3 linked regions of the Homo sapiens genome follow. The protein of the gene in region 3 interacts with the protein of the main gene of each other region in a pairwise test. Each region holds a gene or a part of one and is shown on either strand. Other genes may lie near its edges.

Evidence for each region. Proteins that work in one complex are often made in the same cells at the same time.
Region 1: the proteins of NUMB (region 3) and DNAJC5 come close enough for resonance energy transfer, tested with the Homo sapiens proteins (one study listed by BioGRID).
Region 2: the proteins of NUMB (region 3) and REPS1 interact in binary tests that used the Homo sapiens proteins (3 or more experiments, as listed by UniProt).

The regions. Positions count from the first base shown.
Region 1 is NC_000020.11:63,925,787-63,933,478, reverse strand, and holds part of DNAJC5 (dnaJ homolog subfamily C member 5), read right to left. Parts: intron 7,308-7,692; exon of another isoform or gene 6,492-7,307; intron 6,178-6,491; exon of another isoform or gene 6,157-6,177; intron 5,145-6,156; 5' UTR 5,134-5,144; coding exon 5,027-5,133; intron 4,168-5,026; coding exon 3,954-4,167; intron 2,629-3,953; coding exon 2,457-2,628; intron 2,015-2,456; coding exon 1,911-2,014; 3' UTR 1-1,910. UniProt on the Homo sapiens protein: Acts as a general chaperone in regulated exocytosis. Acts as a co-chaperone for the SNARE protein SNAP-25. Involved in the calcium-mediated control of a late stage of exocytosis. May have an important role in presynaptic function.
Region 2 is NC_000006.12:138,984,901-138,993,164, forward strand, and holds the start of REPS1 (ralBP1-associated Eps domain-containing protein 1), read right to left. Parts: upstream 3,354-8,264; 5' UTR 2,783-3,353; coding exon 2,630-2,782; intron 1-2,629. UniProt on the Homo sapiens protein: May coordinate the cellular actions of activated EGF receptors and Ral-GTPases.
Region 3 is NC_000014.9:73,280,006-73,287,697, reverse strand, and holds part of NUMB (protein numb homolog), read left to right. Parts: intron 1-383; coding exon 384-588; intron 589-3,323; coding exon 3,324-3,617; intron 3,618-5,192; coding exon 5,193-5,339; intron 5,340-7,692. UniProt on the Homo sapiens protein: Regulates clathrin-mediated receptor endocytosis. Plays a role in the process of neurogenesis.

The DNA of each region.
Region 1 (7,692 bases), on a different chromosome or scaffold from region 3:
CGTGATCATTTTAGTGAGAAGAAACAAAGAAAAGTGGGACAAACAAAGCTGCCCAGGACCTAGTGCTGGCAGCCGGCTCATGGTCCACATGCGGATCTGCAGTAGGGGTCAGCTGGGGGCCCTCAACCAGCACCCTGTTCCTAAGCACGTCCAGATGTATCCTCATATCCATGTCCCTTTTGGCAGCTTCCTGGTCAACCTGAACCTACCCTTCTGCACAGCCTCGGGTGGCTGCTGAGGGCAATGAGTGAGCTGGGGCCACGGGTCAGCAGGCAGGCAGGGAAGGGGGCTTCAGGAGGCTCATCTGGTTGGTCCGAGCCAGAGCCATCACACACAGCCTCCTCCTCAGCTTTATCTCTACAGGGACCTCTGCAACTCTGCAGCGGCCACCATGGACATTCTGCAGAAACCAGGCCCACTGGAGTCTGCAGCATGGCGCCAAAGGCAGGCCCAGCACATCCCATGAGCTACGGAGTGCGGGCAGCTCTGAGCCCTCAGCCAGCACAGGGACATCAGACCCGTTCCCCCTGCTCCCCTATGCAGGGCGCCACCCACAAGGTCTAGGACACGCAAGAGACTGACTTCCCATGGTCCACATGTGGATTCCGTAGTCTGGCTGCTGGCCTCCCAAGGGACCCACAATGGTCCACGTGTGGATTCCGTGGCCTGGCTGCCGGCCTCCCAGGGACCCACAATGGTCCACGTGTGGATTCTGTGGCCTGGCTGCCGGCCTCCCAGGGACCCAACCCTCCTGAGCCAGAGGGTCCCTCTGGTCCAGTCAGTCCTTCCTCCAGGGACCTAACGAATCTGGCTCTGCCTGAATCATCGATGACGGGGCAAAGGCGAGTGGGGCAGATGGGAGCTCTGGCAAACACAGGAGGAGGGGTCGTGGGAGAGCCCCCGTCCCCAGTAGCTGGGTGCTCACACATGCACAATCTACTCTCTGACTGTGGCTCATTGGGCTGGTCCTATCATCTGTGGTTCTAAAGGTCCAAAAAGGGCTATGGAAAGGACAGGTGTGCTGGAAGGAATGTGGAGAACGACCTCAAGATGGGAGGGGGGAGACTGGCCCCATCAATCCAGCTCAGAGCCCGGGAAAAGTGCAGGAACACAGACAAATAACCCCAACACGGCGAAGGACACACCTCCGAGAACCAGAACGGCAGCGTCCACACGACGAGACGACCAGGCGAGAAACACCGCGGAGGACACGGTGTCAACCTCGGAAGGGGCCTCCTATGCTTTCCACACCAAATTCTCCCACGGGAGAAACCCTGCCACAAGGCCCAGGAAACCACAGACCCCCAAGCCAACCATGCCCAGCACAGACACCAAGGAATGACAGTGACGCCGGTGACGCCAGGAGGACGCGGCCCCGCCTCTCTTCTGGCAGGTGAGATCAGAGTCCTACTGCAGCCTCAAGGCTGGGAGCACAGAGTGTGGACCAGACCCCGAGGCCAAGACGGTAACACAGCTCTGCCAGGCAGCACCTGCCTCCGGCCCCTCAAGCACAGGTAGGAAAGGGGCAGCCCCCCTTCTCCTCGCCCACCTGACCGGCTGCAGTCACCCCTCACTGGACCAACCTGACCGACAGCCCTGAGGCAGCTCCACCGTGCAGTTCACGCGGTCATGCCGCGGAATGTCCACAACACAGACATGGAACAGAACCCCATACATGCTATTAAAAAAGGGAAAAAAACAGAAGACCGTAGCTACACTGCTTTAAATACTGCATGCTACGCACTTCGTGGGTCAAGGGTCGACGCTGGGTGGGCGTGGAGGCAGGAGGGGCCCCAGCAAGGCCAGGGCAGGCAGGAGGCTGCCTTCCCATCTCTGTGACTACAGTTCATGATTCTAAGGTTGGCGTGGCCAGGCGCCGGCTCCTCCTCTGACCACAGCTCCTCCTGGATTTAGTTGAACCCGTCAGTGTGGTAGCTGGGGTGGGAGTCGGCTGTGAGCTGGGTGGTCTCGGTGGCGGATGCCGGCTGTATGACGATCGGCGTGTCTGTGGCCTCTGAAAAGCAAGCACACAGGGCACTGCACGAGGGCCACAGCCTGGCGCGCACCCAACGCTGGTCCTGTGGAGCGACTTTCGGGCACCTGGACAAACTCTCCACCGGGAGAGGCTACTCGCTGACCTCCACCCCACACGGCTTTCCTCCGTCGCCTTGGGTCACCGCCAGCCCTCGGCCCTCAGCCCCGCCCCAACTGCCTGCCGCCCTGCCCCGCCTCGCAGTCCCTGGGATCTACGGCTACCGCAGGTCACGGCGGGGACAGCTCTATGCGCCTGCTTTACCTCAGGGTCCACGTTCACACCTCAACAGTCCCAGCTGCCACCACAAACACTCGCGGCACAGTGTCAGTGCCCTCCTGTTTGACAAGACAGGTTGACACCATTCAGGGCCCATTCTGGCTCTGCCCCACACACACACACGGGCCCTGGGGCGGGCACTCACCCCTCTCGTCAGACTGCAGCTGTGCCTCCAGATCCTCGGGGGACACGTAGAACTCCGTCTCCTCGCCTTCAGGCGCCTTGGGCTTACACTTCCCGCAGCAGCAGTTGAAGCAGCAGCACAGACAGCAGCAGCAGTAGCAGCACGTGAGGAGGCCGCAGAAGACAAACAGGGCCTGGGGGGAGAAGAAGGTGGTGTTGCATGGCCTCCGAGGCCCCTGGAGAGGGAGGCGCAGGACTCCCAAATGCCCTCAGCAGAAGGCAGGGGGTGCGTTCCAGGTGGGGATACTGCCTTCCAGACAGGAAGCAGAAGGAAAGAACTGAAGAAGGGAGGAGGAGAGACAGAAAGAAACCCGCAGCTTAAAGAAAAGCAGCCTCCAAGACGGGCGTGGTGGCCCATGCCTGTCATCCCAGCACTCCAGGAGGCCGAGGCTGGCGGATCACGAGGTCAGGAGATCGAGACCATCCTGGCTAACACGGTGAAACCCTGTCTCTACTAAAAATACAAAAAATTAGCTGGACGTGGTGGCGGGCACCTGTAGTCCCAGCCACTCGGGAGGCAGAGGCAGGAGAATGGCGTGAACCCGGGAGGTGGAGCTTGCAGTGAGCCAAGATCGCGCCACTGCACTCCAGCCTGGGAAACAGAGCGAGACTCCGTCTCAAAAAAAAAACAAAGCAGCCTCCAGGCTGGGCACAGTGGTTCACGCCTCAACTCCTGCAGTTCTGGAGCTGAAGTGGGAGGATCACTTGAACCCAGGAATTCAAAGTTAAAGTGAGCCAGGATCTCACCACAGCACTCCAGTCTGGGCAACAGAGCGAGACTCTGTCTAACATTAACTAAATAAAAAGTACTTTATAAGGATTCTAGTGAGGAGGCCGACCAGTCAAAGCCAAATACAGGCTTCTCACAAATGCCATGCAGTGATTCCAACCCTCTGGCCTCATATATGACATTTGGAACAAAACGAGGAAACGAAGAAATGCGGATGTAACATCGAGGCTTATTTCCTCCTGTCTCACGAAGGACTGGGAGCCATTTACAGAAGAAACCCTGGCGGCTCCGCACGGCTCTTCCCTGGGACAATCTGTACGCTATGGCTTGTTCCAGGCAGGACACCAAGCCAGTGACAGAGCTTCGCCCATCACACAGGTGAGGAGAAAGGCTCCATATGCCCAGAAGCCTTTTCTCAGGAGTGTAGAGTTGCTGGCATCAACGCATGGGCTCTGCAATGCTGGGAACCCTGCAGGCGTGGAGTGACCCGGGTGCCCACATGGCAGGAGAGACTCGGGTGCCCGCACGGCAGGAGTGACTCGGGCGCCCGCACGGCAGGAGTGACTCGGGTGCCCGCACGGCAGGAGAGACTCGGGTGCCCGCACGGCAGGAGAGACTCGGGTGCCCGCACGGCAGGAGTGACTCGGGTGCCCGCACGGCAGGAGAGACTCGGGTGCCCGCACGGCAGGAGTGACTCGGGTGCCCGCACGGCAGGCAGCTCGCCCTCACCTTGGCCCACCAGCTGGACAGCACGAAGTAGGTGTTCACGTTCTCTTCCCCAAACTGCTCGGCCACGTAGAGACCCAGCGAGCCGTACTTGTCGTAGATGTTCCTTTTTGTGGCGTCCGTGAGGATGGCGTGCGCGTTGTTGATCTCCTTAAACTTGTCCGCGGCCTCCGGGTTGTCGGGGTTCTTGTCGGGGTGATATTTCAAGGCAAGCTTCCTGCAAACCAAAACCATGTCCTGGCTCTACCCTGGACTTTGTTCCACCCGCACCCGCCGCCGCGTCCATCCCACCCGCACGCACTGCCGGGTGCAGTGGAAGGCAGGTCCACCCAGGCCACCTCACTGTCCGACTCTCCAGGGCTGCAGGGGCCAGGGACAAAAGCAAGCTCCGCGGTTGTTTCAGGTAAACCTCCTCACCCTGACCCAGCCTCAGAGGAGGGAGCCCCAAGGGCTGTGAGTGCCACGGCACATCTAAGTTCAGCGGCACCAAGGCCAGCCCTGGTGTCCCAGCCGCTAACTGCACAAGTGCCAAGTGAACGGTAAGCACGGCGGGGCGTAATGATGGCACTTTAAGAAGTGTTTTATGAACTACACGATGCTAGCACACGAGAGGAGGACTATCTGAATTGTCTGGATTAGTGATGGTGTCTCTTACAGGTTACTCAATGAAACTGTACCCAAGAGTGCAGTTCTTCAAGCTCAATCAGAAGGCCACAACAGAGTGAGGGGTCTCTGTCATCACTGTGCTAAAACAAGGAGACCACAGGACCATGCCAGCGCTCTGCGGCTCCTGTGAGGCCTCAAACAGGTTCAGACCCTGACTCCCTATGGAACTGTGGACAGTGTGTCAGTTTCTACTAAGTGCTATTTTTTGTTGGCAAGAGAACATGAATACCATAACTTTAAGCTATAAGGAGCACATTACACATACAAAGGTGTTACCGAGCTGTGACCAGTTCAACGCTGAGTCGGCCAGGATAAAGTATGTGCAATGGTTCTTGGTAAAATGCAGACTAAACCACACGGGGCATGTGTGTCTTCCTGGGGGGATGTGGGGGCCACACTTGTCCACTTACCGATAGGACTTTTTAATGTCATCTGAGGTTGCGTTCTTGTCCAACCCAAGGACGTGGTACAATGACTCCCCAGAGGTAGACAGTGAGCGCTGTCTCTGGTCTGCCATGTTAGGCTATTCTAGAAGAAAAAATAAAAAGAAAGTATCACAAAGTATAGATGAAAGTACCAAGGGCAGAGCTGATGGACTTTATTCCATAAGACCGTTCAAAGCAAAAGAATCCAACACTGCCTTGTGGAGTTTGCCACGTGCACAGACAGACGCCATGGCATGGAGAAGTGTGAGACGGCAGAATACGGCCACCCCAAGAGATCCTGAAGAACTGCAGCTGTGTACTGTGGGCCGGCACAGGGGCTCACACCTGTAGTCCCAGCATTTTGGGAGGCTGAGGCGGGAGGACCGCTTGAGCCCAGGAGTTTGAGGCTGCAGTGAGCTATGATCACTCCACTGCACTGGAGCCCAGGAGACAGGGACCCTGTTCCTTAAAAACAAATATATAAATAAACAAAATAAATTAATTAATTAAAATAAACATGCATATTGTAATCCTTACAGCAACCTCTGCATAAAAAATGCAAAGAGGTATAAGCTAAAAAGTTACAAGAAAAATGAAAAAGTAACTCAACACAGGAAACAAATAGAAAATTAGTTGGAAGATCTAAATCCAAACATATCAACAATTAAATTCAATGTTAGTGGACAAAAAACTCCAATTAAAGTAAGGGACTGACAGAATGGATAAAAATGCAAGACCCAACTTTAATTTTAATACTTTCTCAGAAATCGACAGAACAGACCAAAAATCAGGAAAAACATCGATGTTCTGAACAACACTATCAACCACCATGACCTGATCTTCACAGAACACCCAACATCTAGAGAACACACAGTTTCTTTCTTTCTTTTTTGGGGGGGGGGACAGTTTTGCTCTTGTTGCCCAGGCTGGAGTGCAATGGCACGATCTCGGCTCACCACAACCTCCGCCTCCCCGGTTCAAGCAATGCTCCTGCCTCAGCCTCACACAGGAGTAGCTGGGATTACAGGCATGTGCCACCACACCCAGCTAATTTTGGTATTTTTAGTAGAGATGGGGTTTCTCCATGTTGGCCAGGCTGGTCTTGAATTCCCGACCTCAGGCTGAACTCCCGACCTCAGGTGATCCGCCTGCCTCAGCCTCCCACAGTGCTGGGGTTATAGGTGTGAGCCACAGCGCCTGGCAAATACACATTGTTTCTACATTGTTTCTAACTAATCAACCACCATGACGTGACAGTCACAGAACACCCAACATCTAGAGAACACACATTGTTTTTAACTGAATGCTGTACACTAAGACAAGCCACATGTTAGGGCTTCAAGCTGGTTTCAATAAACGTAATGGAATGAGGTCACACACAGCACTATCCCTGACTTAGCTACAAACTGGAAACCCAGGAGGAAGATACTCTTGATATTCAACAACACACCTCCGGCTAACATGTAGCTCAAAGAAGAAATCCCAGGGGAACTTAGAAAATGTTTTGAATTGAATAATAAATACAGTGTACATGACGGTTAATTTCATGTCTCCTTTGCTGCATCGTGGGGCACCCAGATGAAACATGACTTCAGGGTGTGCCTGGGAGGGTGTTTCTTGGTAAGAGCAGCACCTGAGCTGGGGGCTCCATGAAGCCAACTGCGCTGCCCTGTGCAGGTGAGTGTCGTCCCAGTCCACGGGGGTCCCGAATAGAAAGGGGTGGGAGGAGGAGTTGGCCTGGGTTTTCCTTCTCGCCTGCCAGCCTGAGCGGGGCCACGTGTCTCCTCCTGTCCTTGGACTGTTATTATCCCACTGCTTTCCTCAATCTTCAGCAAATGGCAGAGCATGAGATTCCGTCTCCATAATGACGTGGGCCAATTCCTCATAACAAATCTCCTTTAGAAAGAGACACAGATAATGGCAACGTTCCTCTGCAGAATGCTGACTAGTACAACACGTTAATCAAGGCCTAAGGCTCCGCCTCAGGAAGCTACAAAGTAACAGGATAAACCCAACATAAATGCAAGCAAGGAAATCATAAGGAACAGAAATCCATGAAAACAAACAGATAACTTCAACAAAGCCAAAAGAGTTGGTTCTTTGAGCAACATGAGGAAAGACATCACTACAGATCCTAGAGGCGTGAAAAGGATAAAATACGAACAACTTCATGCCAAGAAATTAGAAAAATTAGATGAAATGGACAAATATCTTGAAAATTACAATTTACCAAGACTGACATGAAATAGAAAATCTGAATAGGCCTGCATCTGTTAATAAAGTTATATTTGTAATAAAAAATCCCCAGAAGGCCAGGCGCCGTGGCTCACGCCTGTAATCCCAGCACTTTGGGAGGCCAAGGCGGGCAGATCACGAGATCAGGAGATTGAGACCATCCTGGCTAACACAGTGAAACCCCATCTCTAATAAAAATACAAAAAAATTAGCCGGAAGTGGTGGCAGGCACCTGTAGTCCCAGCTACTCGGGAGGCTGAGGCAGGAGAATGACGTTAACCCGGAAGGCGGAGCTTGCAGTGAGCAGAGATCGCACCACTGCACTCCAGCCTGGGCGACACAGCGAGACTCCGTCTCAAAAAAAAAAAAAAAAAAAACCAGATAAAATTCCAGGCCCAGATTTTTTTTTTAACCAA
Region 2 (8,264 bases), on a different chromosome or scaffold from region 3:
TAACATATCCAGTCTCTCCCTTTCTATTCTACTGCTGTCACCCTGGTTGGATGTCCATGACCTAGCACCCAATCCAGACCACTGAAAGAGTGTCATTCCTTACCCTTTCTGCCACTCAAAGTCAAAAACTTTTCAATGGGTCTCCATTGCTTGCTGAAATATCGTTATCTGCTGCCCTTCTTCAGAGTCTTTCCCAATATGGCCTCTTTCTAATTTTATATTCTGTTATCCCGAAAACACTAGTCCTTGAAAAGGCTCCTACACTTTCCACTTCTGATCACTTTTCTCTGCCTGGAAGCCCTCATAATTCCATTCCCCTCACTCCACCCTAATTTAAAGTCCATCTGAATTAAGTCAAAAAGCCTTTCTTGGTCATACCTCCTTAGCATTTCATAACACTTGGCACCTCTCCTATGGCATACATTATACCTTATGTTATACATGAGCACTCCTATAATTGACAAGATCCTCAAGAGCTTCTTACTCCTCTTCTGATGCCTGCAATGCCTAGCCCAGTGTTAAGTAGAGAACTAAGCATTAGATATGAGCTGCCCCAAATGTTTCCCACTTAGAAAGCAATGGAGGACTGTGTTTTCAGACAATCCCAAACTCCCTTAAGGGAATTAAGCACATATTCTCCTTTTGTCTCATATTTCTATGTCTTAGACCAATTTTTAAGTAAATTGCCTTCAAGATATCTAGACTGCTATTTAGTATACATAACTGTAAGAGTTCTGCTCCAGGGAGTTCCAACTTGTAACTGAACCCTGAATATTTAAGCTCTCTCTTTATGCCAAAAGACAATGGAAATTTATTTTTTGAATGTTAATAAAATTGAGCAAAACATAAAAATAACTTGCACTGAATTAAACATGTTTGAAGTAAAGATTCATTAATGCTAATGTGTCTGTCCTAAAAATTACATTTCAAGTTCTAAAGTCTTTGTGTACCCATTAAAAAGATTGAAAGTTTTATTTCAACTCTTTCTCACCTCAAAGACAAACTAAAATAGAACAGAGAAGGCTTTTCCTTAATTTTATTTAGATCCTAACTTGAAGGTATACTTTGTTATTTCTTCAAAAGGAGCAAAAAGAGTATGATTAATGAGCATGTTCTGACCAGATCTCTAAGTCCTACTCCAAAGCTGTAACAGGAGAGTACCATAGACCACACTACCAGCACCCTTCGTTAGCAGACCACAGGCTTTGTTTTGTATCTCCCTGAGCTAAGAATGGCTTTACATTTTTGTGTTTTGTAAACACAAGAAGAAGAATATGCAACAGAGAGCATATGTGGCCAGCAAAGCCCAAAATATTTACTATTTGTCCCTTTTCAACAGGATGAATTTGGGACTCCTCGTTGCCCTTCACTGGCACGTAAGACATCCCACCTTTAAAAAAGCAATGTAAAACACAAGACCATTTAAAAAGATCGAACTCGTTCAACTTAGTCATAGTTAATGCAGACTTAACTTCTAAAACAGAGACCTGTGTGTGGACATTTTTATTCTTCACAGAATTTTTGTTGGAAGAAACTTGCCTTCATTCTGTGGATGAACATACTTATGCTTGAAAATGGAAAGTGCCTGACCCAAAGTCACACTGCTGGTTAACAGCAGAGTAGGGTCAAGGACCCAGCCTTCAAAACCCTGGTCCAATGCTTTGCAGTCCACTACATACACCTATACATGTGGCTTTAAATTTTGGAGATGTGGATAACTAGCTTGGATCAATATAAAAGATGAAAGCTTAAAACCTGTTCCTAACATACTGTTTAGACAGACTCCTACTAGCAGCTATGAATCATTAAACAGAGTAGCATTAATGCTCACCACATACATTAGATAAGAACTTCTAGGAAGTCCTCTGTTTCAAAAGCAGATATGATAAAAAAAGGCTTTAAACCTACAGGGTTTGCTCCTCCAGGGCTTCAGATTAGGGCAAATAACGCACTTCTGCCTACCAGCTGTTCAATACTCATCTCCCAACCCAAATCCACAAGTTCCACAAATGCTTTCGAATGCCTGTTGAAAAACATTGTTCAGTCTCATCACATACACACGTTCTACAGATAATTACAACTTCTTGTATGCCTACTTGTAAAACTACTAAGTAGTTCACATTTTAAAAAATTTCCCTAAGAATTTTGCTTCCTTTAAAAAAACTGCTTCTTCGATTCCTAAATCTATAGAACTCACTTTATCACGTCTTCTCGGTTAATCCAAGAATTAAAAAAACCATTTTGCCCATACTGATAACTTTACTACTCTGCAGGATCCGAAAAGCTCTCTATATGCCAGGTTCTAGGATTCACACACATTAACAACCTAAGATCCTTCAAGTGAGATAGCTCTTGCAGTACAGAGCACAGATTCTCAGGGTCGTGGGGGATACCGGCTGAGGCTCTTCAGACCCCCACCACAGGAGTTCCGTCCTCTAAGGGCAACCCCCTCCCCCTTGGCCGCGGCGCGAGTCCAGGCCTCCCGGGCACCTGCGGCCCCTGCCCGCTGCGGGGACCCCCCGAGGAACCAGCCCCCCGCCGGGCCCCAAGGAATCGGCGCCCACTCCCACTCCTGGAGGCCAGTGACTGCAGGCCTAAGCCGCCCGCCGGCCCCGGGACGCGACGTTACCTGTAGGACCACGTCGTTCGGCAGCTGCGCGGCCCGGAACAGCTCCAGCACCCGCCCGTTGACCACCACCTTCTTGGTGCTCTCAATGTCGCAGTAGGAGAAGAGATCTGAATAGTATTTCTGCTCCGCATCGCTCAGCGTTAAGCCTTCCATCTTCGCCTCCGGCTCACGGCCGCCCCGCCCCGCATGCACTACTCGGGGCCCGGCCCCAGGAACCTGGGCCGGCAGGGGCTGCGCGTGGCCCGGCCTCCTGCTAGCTTCCCGAAAACGCCGGCCCCGGCCTCACACGCGCCAGGTGCGCCCGAGCAACAGGGCCCGGAGGTCGCGAGGAGGGGGCCCGGCTGCGCTCGCCGCGCCGCTGCCTGCGAGGCCCGGCGCGCGGCTGCGGCTGCGGCTGCGACTACGGCTCCGGCTCCGGCTCCGGCTCCGGCCGCGGGGAGGGTGCAGAGAAAGAGGCGGGGGCCGCGGAGGCGCGAGGCACTGGCGGACTCCGCCCCCGCCGCGGGTTCGAGTCTCCCCGGCTCCCTGCCGATTCCCCCAGACTTCCCGCCTCGGCTTCCCCTTCCGTCCACGCCTCCGGAGCGGCAGCGCTTCCCGGAAAGTTGTGGGGCTTCGAACCTAAAGTTTCGGGGGATCTGGGCTGAGCGTGGCCGCCGCTCCGCCTCCCTCCGCCGCCATTTACAGTGCCCCGGCCCGGCCCCGACGCGCCCGCACCAACAGTGACAGCGGCGGCCGCGCTCCAGACCCGGATGTGAGGCCGGGAGGAGAGAGCGCGAGAGGGAGAGAGAAACACCCACCGGGCTGGCTTGGCCGCTCCCGGGAGAGGGAGGAGGCCGCAGCGCCCCCTGGTGGCCGGCGCCCGGCGGCGGGATGACCGAGCCGCCCTCTGCGCGGAGATCTCAGCAGCAAGACCCCCGGAAAGGGGGGTGCAGTGGGAAACAGCCGGCAGCTCATTAAGACCGAGATAACTAAGATCCGGGTTGCAGTTTTTATGTTTCGCAGTTTCTGGTCCTAAGCGTCTGAATAATTGGATTGAAAGGGGAGCCTTGTTCAGGTTATTATCATTCTATCTGTACCTTTTCGGTACAGATGAAGATAAATGCAGTATTTCCATCTGTTCTGAAGGGCTATGAACATCCGGGCTATGAACATCCTGGCTATCCGGGAAGCCTCCACGTAGACACCAACATTGAGGCTTCATCTCACTCGTGCTTCAAGCCATGTTTACCTGAGAAACAAAATGTGCTGAATAGAGGGGAAAACTGGCAAAGTTGTCCTCTTTGTTCACCAGGTCATTCCGGTCACTGGGAACTTAATACTCTACATTTATACCTTCAACTCTATCAACTCATGTAGGCCCGGGGCTGCCCACAGGGGCTGCCTTCCGTATTTTCTCCTTTATGAAAATCATGGAGTGGCGCTCTTTTAATCTGCACCTGTCCCAGAGAGGGGATTCTTCAGCTATTTCAAGTAGAATATCTTAAGAATTTATACTTAGCAAATATAAAATACTTCAAAGACGGGAGCTAAGGCAGAATTACCCAGAGTTCTGGTTTTTATTTTGTCTTCTACAAGTTGTTTCCCAGAGTGCGGATCCTATAAATGACACATATGAGGAAATTATTACAGGTTCCCAGTCATTTATCTGTAATTGCAAAATTCAAAGCGCACTGAAAACCCAAAGACTTTTTTTTGTAACCCTTTGGAAGTAAAACCTGCCCTGCCTCATTTGGAGGCAAAATCTAAACTAAGCTTGCATGAAGCTATTTCTAGCCTTTATGGATCCCACTTAGTGTCAATATTTACTCATTTCACTCCAGGTCTTTGTAGAATGTTAATATGTACACAGTCACAGGCATTCTATTATCTTTCTATTTTTTAAGAAAGATAAGGGATTTTAGACCTGTCAATGTCTTCTGACTTGACTAGTAGTATTTGATAAAGGTAAGTATATACTATCCATTAAGCTTATTTCCCATCTCTAAGACTTTCAGTTTGCTACAGCAGCCCCTCATGTGTCCTTTCAGGGCACCTGCAGCAAGTGATCAGACCCCCCCCAGACAGCTGCCTTCCAAAGGTGTAAACAGAAAGAGCACAATGGGGTAGGGATTGGCTCACAATTGTCTTTGCATCTTTTTCTCTGCCACCTCTCCTAGGCCTTGCAGCTCTTGTCGGCCCCAGGGCCTTTGTTCCTGCCATCTAAAATAGTCCTTCCACAAACCATGGCATGGCGTATTCTCTCATATGGTTTCAGGTCCCTGCTCATATGTCACCTCCTCAGAGCAGCCTTCCTGCAACAGCTGCTGTAAAATAATCCCACCATGCACTATCCCCTTATCTGAATTCCTTTTTTTTCTCTTTTGAGACAGAGTCTCCCACTGTCACCCAGGCTGGAGTGCAGTGGCATAATCTTGGCTCACTGTAGCTTCGACCTCCCAGGCTCAGGTGATTCTCCCACCTCAGCCTCCCAGGTAGCTGGGACCACAGGCCCAGGCCACCATGCCCACCTAAATTTTGTGTATGTGGCTTTTGTAGAGACAGAGTTTTGCCATGTTACCCAGGCTGGTCTCAAACTCTTGGGCTCACCCACCTCAGCCTCCCAAAGCGCTGGGATTACAGGCATGAGCCACTGCACCCAACCTGAATTCTTTTTCTTTATAACACTTTTCACTATCTGACATTACATATATAGCTGTTACATTTTTAACGGCTAATTATTGAATAATTACTAAGTTTCAGGCATTGTTCTAAAGCTTTACACTAATAACCACATTATTCACAACAACCCTATTAAGTGGTACTACTAGGTTTTTTTTTTTTTTTGACAGATTAGGAAACTGAGGCAAAATGGGTTAAGTATTGTGTAAGTCATGTTGCTATTAAATACCCGGATCTGGGATTCAAACTCCAGGCTGTCTCAACTCTAAAAATCACTACCCTATCTTGCCTGTCTAATTTCTTTGTTAAGTTTGTTATTAAGAAAATATTTCTTCACCAGGCATGGTGGCTTATGCCTGTAATCCCAGCACTTTGGGAGGCTGAGGTGGGTGGATTGCTTGAGCTAAGGAGTTCAAGACCAGGCTGGGTAACACGGTGAAACACCATCTCCACCAAAAATACAAAAATAGCCAGGCATGATGGTGTGCACCTGTGGTCCCAACTACTCGGGAGGCTGAGGTGGGAGGATCACTGGAGCCCAGGAGATAGAGGCTGCAGCGAGCAGTGATTGTGCCACTGCACTCCAACCTGGGAGACAGGACGAGACTCTGTATCAAAAAAAAAAAAAAAAAGAAGAAGAAGAAGAAAGAGAGAGAGAAAGAAAGCAAGCAAGCAAGAAAAGAAGGAAAATATTTCTTCATTGCCACAGTGCCAAAGCCCAGTATGTGACACATAATGTGTATCAATAATAATTTGTTGAATGAATGAAAGCATCAATTTTGACATTGATGTGATAAGCCATTCAATACAGTAAGTCCTCAATTAATGTTATTGTGGATAGGTCCGTGGAAACTAATTTTAAGCAAAACAAGGTATTCTAACCAAGTAGTTTAGCTTCAAAAGAAAACTTTTTTCTTTTCTCCTTTCTTGCCAGTCTCAAGCTGTAACCTTGAAACAAACTGTAGAAACCTTTTCTCTTTAGTCTTAAAATATAGCCTTGAAACATACTTTGAAACTCCACTCCCTTCTATTTCCCACAATGTACTCCCTTACCCAATGCACATTTATCTAACTGTATGCTTCTTAAAAATTCCAGGGGCTAATTTAAAATGAACTAGGCACAAAGGCCCAGCTGCAGAATTGTCCCCCACTTAAAGATTGCCTCAAGATAGATAATCTGCAGCCTGGCCACAGGCGAGATGACGCCAGCCTGCATTTTAGATGGACCATAACTCAAGATAGGCGTTGAAGCAAGACACACAGCCCGGGCTCCCGGCACAACTCTTGCATGTTTCCCATATCAAGGTTCCCTTTTTGAAACCTCTGCCTTCAGCCCAGACTTTTGAAGCAGTTTCCAGAGGTGTAAGCTGGCTGTTTCCCCACTGCTAGCTTTGAAAAATAAAGTCACTTTCCTTTCACCCCTTGTTATTGGGTTTGCAAAGGGCAAACAGCCAAGGCTGCACTTGGTTACGGTATCACGAAACCAATTTTATCATAGGCTAATTGATAATTTGCTACAAACAAGAGTTAAGTTGCTGTGACATATTTCTGGTCACAGAATCACCAAATTTCTAAATCGAGACCAAAACACTTCTAATATTAAACATTTAAGTAAAGGTAAGCTACACATGCAACTAAAATGATTAACTAAAAAAAAAATAACTACTTACCCTATTTTTGGTATATTGGTGAGTTACCACGGTTGTCCTGGTGGTGGGTTAAATCAAGGAATAAATGTCTGCAAAGTGAAGTTCAAAATCATCACAAACATGGTGGCTTGCTGAGCTCTCTGGCACCACCTTGTTTACTGTTTTGCATCTGTATGATCATCATATGCTTTACACATTTTTATTTTTCAGTCACTTATATTCATTCATTTTCCTACCTACTTATTCCATTTCGGGGTTGTGGGTAGCAAGAGCCTATCCCAGTGGCTCATGGGACAGGTAGAACCCAGCCCCTGTCTAGGATGTGATTGCATCACAGGGTATACACACACACACACACACACACACACACACACACACACACACATCCACACTCACTCAGACTGGGACCATTTAGACACCCTGACTTATCTAATGTGCACATCTTTGGGATGTGGAGGGACACCTGAGGATTCAGAGAAAACCCACACAGACATAGGGAGAGCATGCAGACTTCACACAGACAGTGGTGCCTACGGGGAATGCATTTATTTTTTCTCATCAATGTTATAATGAAACAATGTTGCTATTGAAGGACCTGTTACCTTCTAATCTCCTCCTAGTTTTGCACCCTTAACCTTAGAAACCTCCAGCACCACTCCTCTTTAGCAACCCAAAGTAATTATAGGATTGCTTCACTTCCAAGTTCTGGAACTCTGAAACTTCTTTCTCAGTCCATAACATGCTGTCCTTTCACTCTCACGTTCCAGTCCTCAAATAAGCATGCACCCTAGGCTGGGCGCGATGGCTCACACCTGTAGTCTCAACGTTTCCGGAGGCTGAGGCAGGTGGGTCACCTGAGGTCAAAAGTTCGAGACCAGCCTGGCCAACATGGCGAAACCCTACCTCTACTAAAATTACAAAAAAAAATTTAGCTGGGCATGGTGGTGTGCGCCTGTAATCCCCACTATTCAGGAGGCTGAGGCAGGAGATTCGCTTGAACCCGGGAGGCAGAGGTTGCAGCAAGCTAAGATCACACCACTGTGCTCCAGCCTGGGTGACAAGGCGAGACTCCGTCTCAAAAAAAAAAAAAAGAACAAACAAACAAAAAATACTTGCTCCTTGATATGGTTTGGCTGTGTTCCCACCCAAAATCTCATCTTGAATTGTAATTTCCATAATTCCCATGTGTTGTGGGAGGAACCCATTGGGAGGTAACAGAACCATGGGGGCGGTTACCCCCATGCTGTCCTCCTGTTAATGAATGAGTTCTCAGCAGATCTGTTGGTTTCATAAGGGGATTTTCCCCTTTTGCTCAGCACTTCTCCTTA
Region 3 (7,692 bases):
TTCATAAAAACAGACATTTGGGCCGAGTGTGGTGGCTCATGCCTGTAATCCCAGCACTTTGGGAGGCTGAATTGGGTAGACCACTTGAGGCCAGGAGTTGGAGACCAGCCTGCCCAACATAGCAAAACCCCATCTCTACTAAAAATACAAAAATTAGCCAGGTGTGGTGGTGCGTGATTGTAGTCCCAGCTACTCAGGAGGCTGAGGCACGAGAAGTATTTGAGCCCGGAGGCAGAGGTTGCAGTGAGCAGAGACTGCGCCACTGCACTCCAGCCTGGGTAACAGTAAGACTCTGTCTCAAAAACAAAACAAAACAAAAGACTTATTTGTATGTAATTGTTAGTAGTGTAATTCTGAAAAGCTTTTAAAATCTGCTCTTACAGGGTGAAAGGTTGAGCCATGCAGTAGGCTGTGCTTTTGCAGCCTGTTTAGAGCGCAAGCAGAAGCGGGAGAAGGAATGTGGAGTGACTGCTACTTTTGATGCTAGTCGGACCACTTTTACAAGAGAAGGATCATTCCGTGTCACAACAGCCACTGAACAAGCAGAAAGAGAGGAGATCATGAAACAAATGCAAGATGCCAAGAAAGGTACAATCTGTTCTACAGTGTGTATTTATGGAATGCAGTTTTTCCCAACAAGGTATTATTTTGAAGCTACCAGGGGTAAATTTTCTCATAATCAAAGAGAACCCTTAGCAATATAAAACCTTATAACAAAGTTGAAAATCTTAAAAACCGCTTCCTTTAGAGTGGCTAGTTTAATGGCTTCAAAAATATTTACTCCATTATAGTAAGCTATCTGAGGAATCAGAGTGCAGTTGAAGAAGCTGCAGAGACATCTCTTACCCCCTTCCTCCCATCCTGAAATACCTTTTTAATTCTGATGTATCTGATCTCTTTGAGAAGCAAATGAATCAAGTACCTGCATCTTAAAGGAAGCAGCAGAGGTCCCAGGGCTTAAGGCTGCAAAGCATCCACGGACTATGATGCTAGCAGAGAGATTTAACAGTAATACTGTTTATATGATATTATTGCTGTTTTTTAGTGCTTTCTAGTCACAAAAGTCTATAGATTTTGAGAGGTAAGCCTATAACTCTTTTTTTCTATAGCCCTGTTAATTTAATTTAGTGTGTGATTTTATAGAGTGTGAGTTTTATTTAGGTACACATGGCATCACAGCAGAAATGCCTGTACAAACATTCAAGTTAGTTGGCAGTCTATAAATGTGAGTTGGGTATATTTTACAACTAAATGATAGGGCTTGAAAATACTTTTGAATTCTTGTATATAAGTAGGGTTAAAACCAACAAGACAAGCACAAACAATTCAAGTTAACTAATAGACATTAATATAATTTTGAGGCCAGGTATAGTGGCTTACAGCTGTAATCTCAATACTTTAGGAGGCTGAGGAGGAAACATCACTTGAGGCCAGGAGTTTGTGACCAGACTGTGCAACATAGACTCTATCCCTTAAAAAAAAAAAAAAAAAAAAAAAAAAAAAAAAATTGCCATATTTGGTGGTGCACATCCGTAATCCTAGCTGCTTGGGAGGCTGAGACCAGAGGATTGCTGGAGCCCAGGAGTACAAGGTTACAGTGAGCTGTGATCATACCACTGCACTCCTCCAGCCTGGGTAACAGCAAAACCCTGTCTCTTAAAAACAAACAAATATATATATATGATAATTTTTTTTACTATAACCTTTTAGTTCTAAACTAGTCATTTTTGTTGTTGTTGTTTTGGTTTGATTTCGGTGTTTTTTTTTTTTTTGAGACAGAGTGTAGTTCTGTTGCCCAGGCTGGAATGTAGTGGCGCAGTCTCCGCTGACTGCCGCCTTCACCTCCTGGGCTCAAGCGATTCTCCTGCCTCAGCCTCCTGAGTAGCTGGGATTACAGGTGAATGCAACCACACCCAGCTAATGTTTGTATTTTTAGTAGAGATGGACTTTCGCCATGTTGGCCAGGCTGGTCTTGAACTCCTGACCTCAGGTGATCTGCCTGCCTTGGCCTCCCAAAGTGCTGGGATTACAGGTGTGAGCCACCGCACCTGACCTTAAACCAGCCCTTTTGGTTAGCATCATTGACTAATACTGACCCAAACAGCTCTAATTCTTAAGCCCCCTCCAAAAAAAAAGCATACATATTTTTATTTGAAATGAAATTATTGATAGTGATTTTTTTTCATTTCTTGTAAATATTTGCACCAGGAAGCCAAAGGGGGGAAAAATCATGCTATCTGTACTAGAAAATTTAACCTGTATTACTGTTATCTAATATGCTTTAGTGGTCTTCAGACTATTCACTAATTAAGCATGTTCTTTAATACCACCAAATAATATTCATTGTTATGCACAACAACTGCAAAGAGATTGAGTCCCAAGATCTACAAAGGATTGTGAGAGTTGGTGGTTGAGATTTGTCACAATCAGAATGGGACTCAACTGGTACCCACAGTCTTACATTTACTCAAATTTAATCCAGTTCAAAATTTTACTACTGCATGCTTTTATTCAAATGAACCACAAATGCATGATTTAAAGACTGCTTTAGGTCGGGCGTGGTGGCTCATACCTGTAATCCCAGCACCTTGAGAGGCGGAGGCAGGTGGATCACCTGAGGTCAGGAGTTCATGACCAGCCTGGCCAACAATGGTAAAACCTCGTGTGTATTAAAAATACCAAATGAGTTGGGCGTGGTGGTGTGCACCTGTAATCCCAGCTACTTGGGAGTCTGAGGCAGGAGAATCACTTGAACCTGGGAGGTGGAGGTTGCAGTGAGCCAAGATGGTGCCATTGCACTCCAGCCTGGACAAAAAGAGCAAAACTGCATCTCAAACAATAAATAAATAAATAAATAAATAAATAAAGACTGTTATATATGACATTCTTTGACACCTAATCAAAGATATATGGTTAAGCTTATGCTTATTTAGACCTTTCTAATGCTACAGTTCCCAAAGTTCTCCTCCCCTAACACACAAGCATTGAAAATCATGAATCATTCTTTAAAAGACTACATATTAGGAATTCATAGGAACTGAGTTTTTAAGATCTTTTTCACAGTCTTAATTTATAAATCACTGAATGAGAATAAAAGATCTAACATTTCTGTCTTAGTAGATATGCTTTGTGACATATAGTACATTACTAAGCCTTTTATCTGTCTGAAAAATGGATCCGAACCCTGCTTCTAACTTATGTTTTAAGAGACACTGGGAAGGAAATGGGTAAAAGGACCTAGAGGGCTTTCGAATTTGTCAGCTCTCTAAACGCAAATTATTTGAAGACATTGCTAAGGTCTTCATTCTCTTTATTTTCTTGAGCTGAAACAGATAAGATAGTCGTTGGTTCATCAGTTGCCCCTGGCAACACTGCCCCATCCCCATCCTCTCCCACCTCTCCTACTTCTGATGCCACGACCTCTCTGGAGATGAACAATCCTCATGCCATCCCACGCCGGCATGCTCCAATTGAACAGCTTGCTCGCCAAGGCTCTTTCCGAGGTTTTCCTGCTCTTAGCCAGAAGATGTCACCCTTTAAACGCCAACTATCCCTACGCATCAATGAGTTGCCTTCCACTATGCAGAGGAAGACTGATTTCCCCATTAAAAATGCAGGTAATGTAGCATCTACCTGACTCACTGGGTACTCGAGCACTGAAGCATTCTCATCACTTCCCATGAAGACACTAATCCCATTAAACTAGGCATTCCTCTTTCCCTGAGGTTCGTTGATAGTTGTATCTTTTGTCATTTCCCATAGTGGGAAAACTAAGGTCCGTGGAGGGGGATGTGAATCCATAATTTCTCTTCAACAAACAGGCAGCAGAGCCATTGTGGAATTTCTAGCCTAAGCCATAAGATTTGTGGTTTGTCCTGATGTAAGTGCATTCACTGCCTTTCAGCCAACCTGCTCCCAAACATCAAGGGTCTCAAGTTTCTATTCTTATTCTGCCATTGGGACCCAGCAGGGAATTAATTAAAGAGGCCTTAGAAACACATAGCATTACCAGCAGAAGAAATGGATATGTGCTCATTGTCCTTCTGGCTGGTTGGCTCCATAAGGAGGAAACTCTAGACAGGTCTTTCGTGTACATCTAAGATCTGTTGTTCATCACAGACAGTGGACTTGTTCACAAGTATTCATTACCTTTCAGAACCGTCTCACAGGCCTTTGTGTGGCCTCTGTACAGCTATGCCAGCCTCTATAGGTCTATCCTCGTCATAAAATCTGTAGCTAAAGTATTAGATCTGGTCAGTGCTTTTGTTGGGCTCTATTTTACTTCCCTCTGAGACATGTCAAGCCATTGCTATAACAAAATATGAGGAAACTGTCTCAATAGGCCATTCCTACTGATGGTATAAAAGTACAGAGAGTTAAGTTCATCTGACAGATGAAACTAGGCCTAAAGAATAGTTGGACTAGATGATTACGGAGGGTCTTTTCAGTTCTCAGCTGAGGTACCTCATTTCAGTTCAGTCTCCTTCTAGGGCAGACAGGGAATAAAAACTATTATTCTCTTTACAGATGAGCAAACAGAGCTTTAGCACACATAATTAGCTTCCTCAGTGATACAGAAGTATCCTAGAGTCAGTATTAAGAATAAAGGCCCTAGCGTCCTACACCTCTGCTCACTTTTTCATGTTATCATAGATCATATGCTTAGTACTGGAGACTTTGGAGAAAAATGAGATTGATGACATTGTCATAGTTTGTTACAGAGAAAAGCACTAAGCATCCACTAGTGCCCAGACTTGAACCCATTTTCCTGACAGAATTACTAAAGGCTCCAGAACCTAATTCAGATCACAGTCTTGAGAACACGTTGGAAGGCATACAGGTTGCAAATGTCTTCTACAAAGATCTGGCTAGCTGAACATCTTGGCACAAAAAGGACAGATCCTCAACAGTGTTATAAGAAGAAGAAATGAAGAAATTTGGGGATTTGTAAGGGAGGAAGATGTGCCTTAGTACATTAATTGTTGACATTTTATACTTTCCCATCTGAAAAGCCAATGAAATTGTGGCCAGTAAATTTTTTGAAACTGGTTTTGTAGCCCTGCCATACAGTTAATTGAGCCTTTTCTTACATAAGCAGGAGATACAGTATAAAGTGCCAGCTTGCATCATACTGTCAAATTTCAGGATTATTCCATTTTTCTGTCTGGAGCCATTTTCTGTTTGCCTTGCAGTGCCAGAAGTAGAAGGGGAGGCAGAGAGCATCAGCTCCCTGTGCTCACAGATCACCAATGCCTTCAGCACACCTGAGGACCCCTTCTCATCTGCTCCGATGACCAAACCAGTGACAGTGGTGGCACCACAATCTCCTACCTTCCAAGGTTGGTGCCCTCTGACCTGCTCAGCTGTTCTCTTTACAACCAGTACTTTTAGTACACTGCTCACTAACTGTAAGTTGGCATCCTGAGCTTCCCAAGGCCTGGTCAGACCCATTAATTTCTCTATTTGATGTCTTAGATTCATTGATTTCTCCATTCGACGATGTCTTTGTGCCCTTCCTGTTTTCTAAGATGTCTGTGTTTGTCATTCTGCATGTGCCCATCTTTCACCCCATTCTATAAGGAATTTCTGTAGTCCCAACCTACTGCCTTATTTCCCACTTGACTGTTAAGGATCAGCATACCCATCCAGTTTCCCAAAAGCAGTAGTCATCAGAATTGGTTCAAAGGTTATGCTTTCTTTAGTGTAGTGGTTCTCAACTGGGGCAAAGTTTGTCTTTCACTGTCTGGAGACATTTTGGGGCTTTACAAGTTGGGGGTTGGGGGTGTTACTGGCTTGTGGTTAGATGCCAAGAATGCCACTAAACATCCTTCAGTGTAGACGACAGCACCCACAACAAAGGATTATCCAGCCCAAAATGTCAGTGGTGCCAATGTTGAGAAGCCCTGGACTCACCTAGTCTCTGCCCTGTCAAAGAGGCTAATAAAGAAAAAGGCACTCCTTTGAGCTCTTTAGTTCATCTTCTATAACAAGTGTCTTAAAATTTGCCTTTGTGGCATTGAAGAGTTAAAAGTTGTTTTCAGAGATACTGACTAAATAGTGGATATTGACTCAGAGGTCAGCAAAGAATTTATGTAACTTAAGTTACAGACTTGTAGAATTTGAGCTGCTATAATTGCTGTTTCTCCATTTCTTTTGAAAGAGAGCTCAGCGGAAGTTTTACTCCAGAGATAGTGCCCTGCTTCTACTGGAAGAACTACACACTTTTTCTCCAAGGGTCTTTTTCTTTTTCTTTTTAATAAACCTTCATAGTCATGTGTACCAAATGACTTTTCATGTCATCTAACAAACATTTATAATACCGGTAATAATAGGCACCATTTATTGAGCACTTACACATTGCTTGCCACATTGTGGTAGGTATTCATGCATTATTTCATTTAATCCCCACAACAAGCCTGTGAGGTAGGTGTTACAGATGAAAAAAAAAAAAGAGGCTCAGAGAGGATAAGTAAATTGCCCAAATCTTACAGACAGGATTTAAACTCAGGTCCTCCTGAATATAGTACCCGTTACATTCTGCTGATTCTGCCAGCCTACAAGGCACTAAGTGTGCAAAATTGAATATTTCAGTTTCCTTTCCCTGCCTTTAGAGGGCTCCCAGTTTCTAGGTGAAAAAAAAAATTTTTTTGCCACCAAAAAAGCAAAGGCAGTCTTTTAGACAAACTCTAGGTAAACAGTACCAACACCGGCTGGGTGCGGTGGCTCACATCTGTAATCCCAACAGGGAGGCTGAGGCAGGCGGATCACCAGAGGTCAGGAGTTCGAGACCAGCCTAGCCAACATGGTGAAACCTCGTCTCTACTAAAAATACAAAAGTTAGCCGGGCATGGTGGCAGGCACCTATAATCTCAGCTACTCGGGAGGCTGAGGCAGGAGAATTGCTTGAACCTGGGAGCCGGAGGTTGCAGTGAGCCGAGATCACACCATTGCACTCCAGCCTGGGTGACAAGAGCGAGACCCCATCTCAAAAAAAAAAAAAAAAAAAAAAAATAGTACCAACACCATAGGCATGGCTGTCCAGTCCTAAAAAGGATATAATTATATTGTAGGTCAGGGGAGGGTGCTTGTCTACACCAAACTGAATGTTATTGAGAGCTGGGCTAAGGAGAAGAAACTAATATAGGTATCTGGAGTAAAAGGAACAAGGGTTAGCAGATTTTAACAAGGGGAGATGAGGAAAGAATAGTAGGTATGTTGTGATATTGTAAACATCATAGAGGGGGAAAAAAATCTTTGTTAAAAAATGTTCTGTGAGTTACCAGGAGAGTTAAAAAAAAAAAACCTTCAAAAAAAGTTGAAATTAATTGTGTAGCAAATTAGAAATCTATCAAGCAAATGAAAACATACCAACTTCGATTTCTCATCTGTAATAGGGGGATAATACCAGACTCGTAGGGTTTTTGAGATAATTAAATGAAATGATGCATGTAAAATATTAGCTTAATGACTAGCACATAATAACGAATCATATATACATTTTAACTTTTGAGGAGGAAACAAAGAGTAATTTTTTTTTGTTTGAGATGGAGTCTTACTCTGTTGCCCAGGCTGGAGTGCAGTGGTGTGATCTAGGCTCATTGCAACCTCCGCCTCCCGGGTTCAAGTGATTCTCCTGCCTCAGCCTCCCTAGTAGCTAGGTTTACAAGTGCACACTGCCACACCCAGCTAATT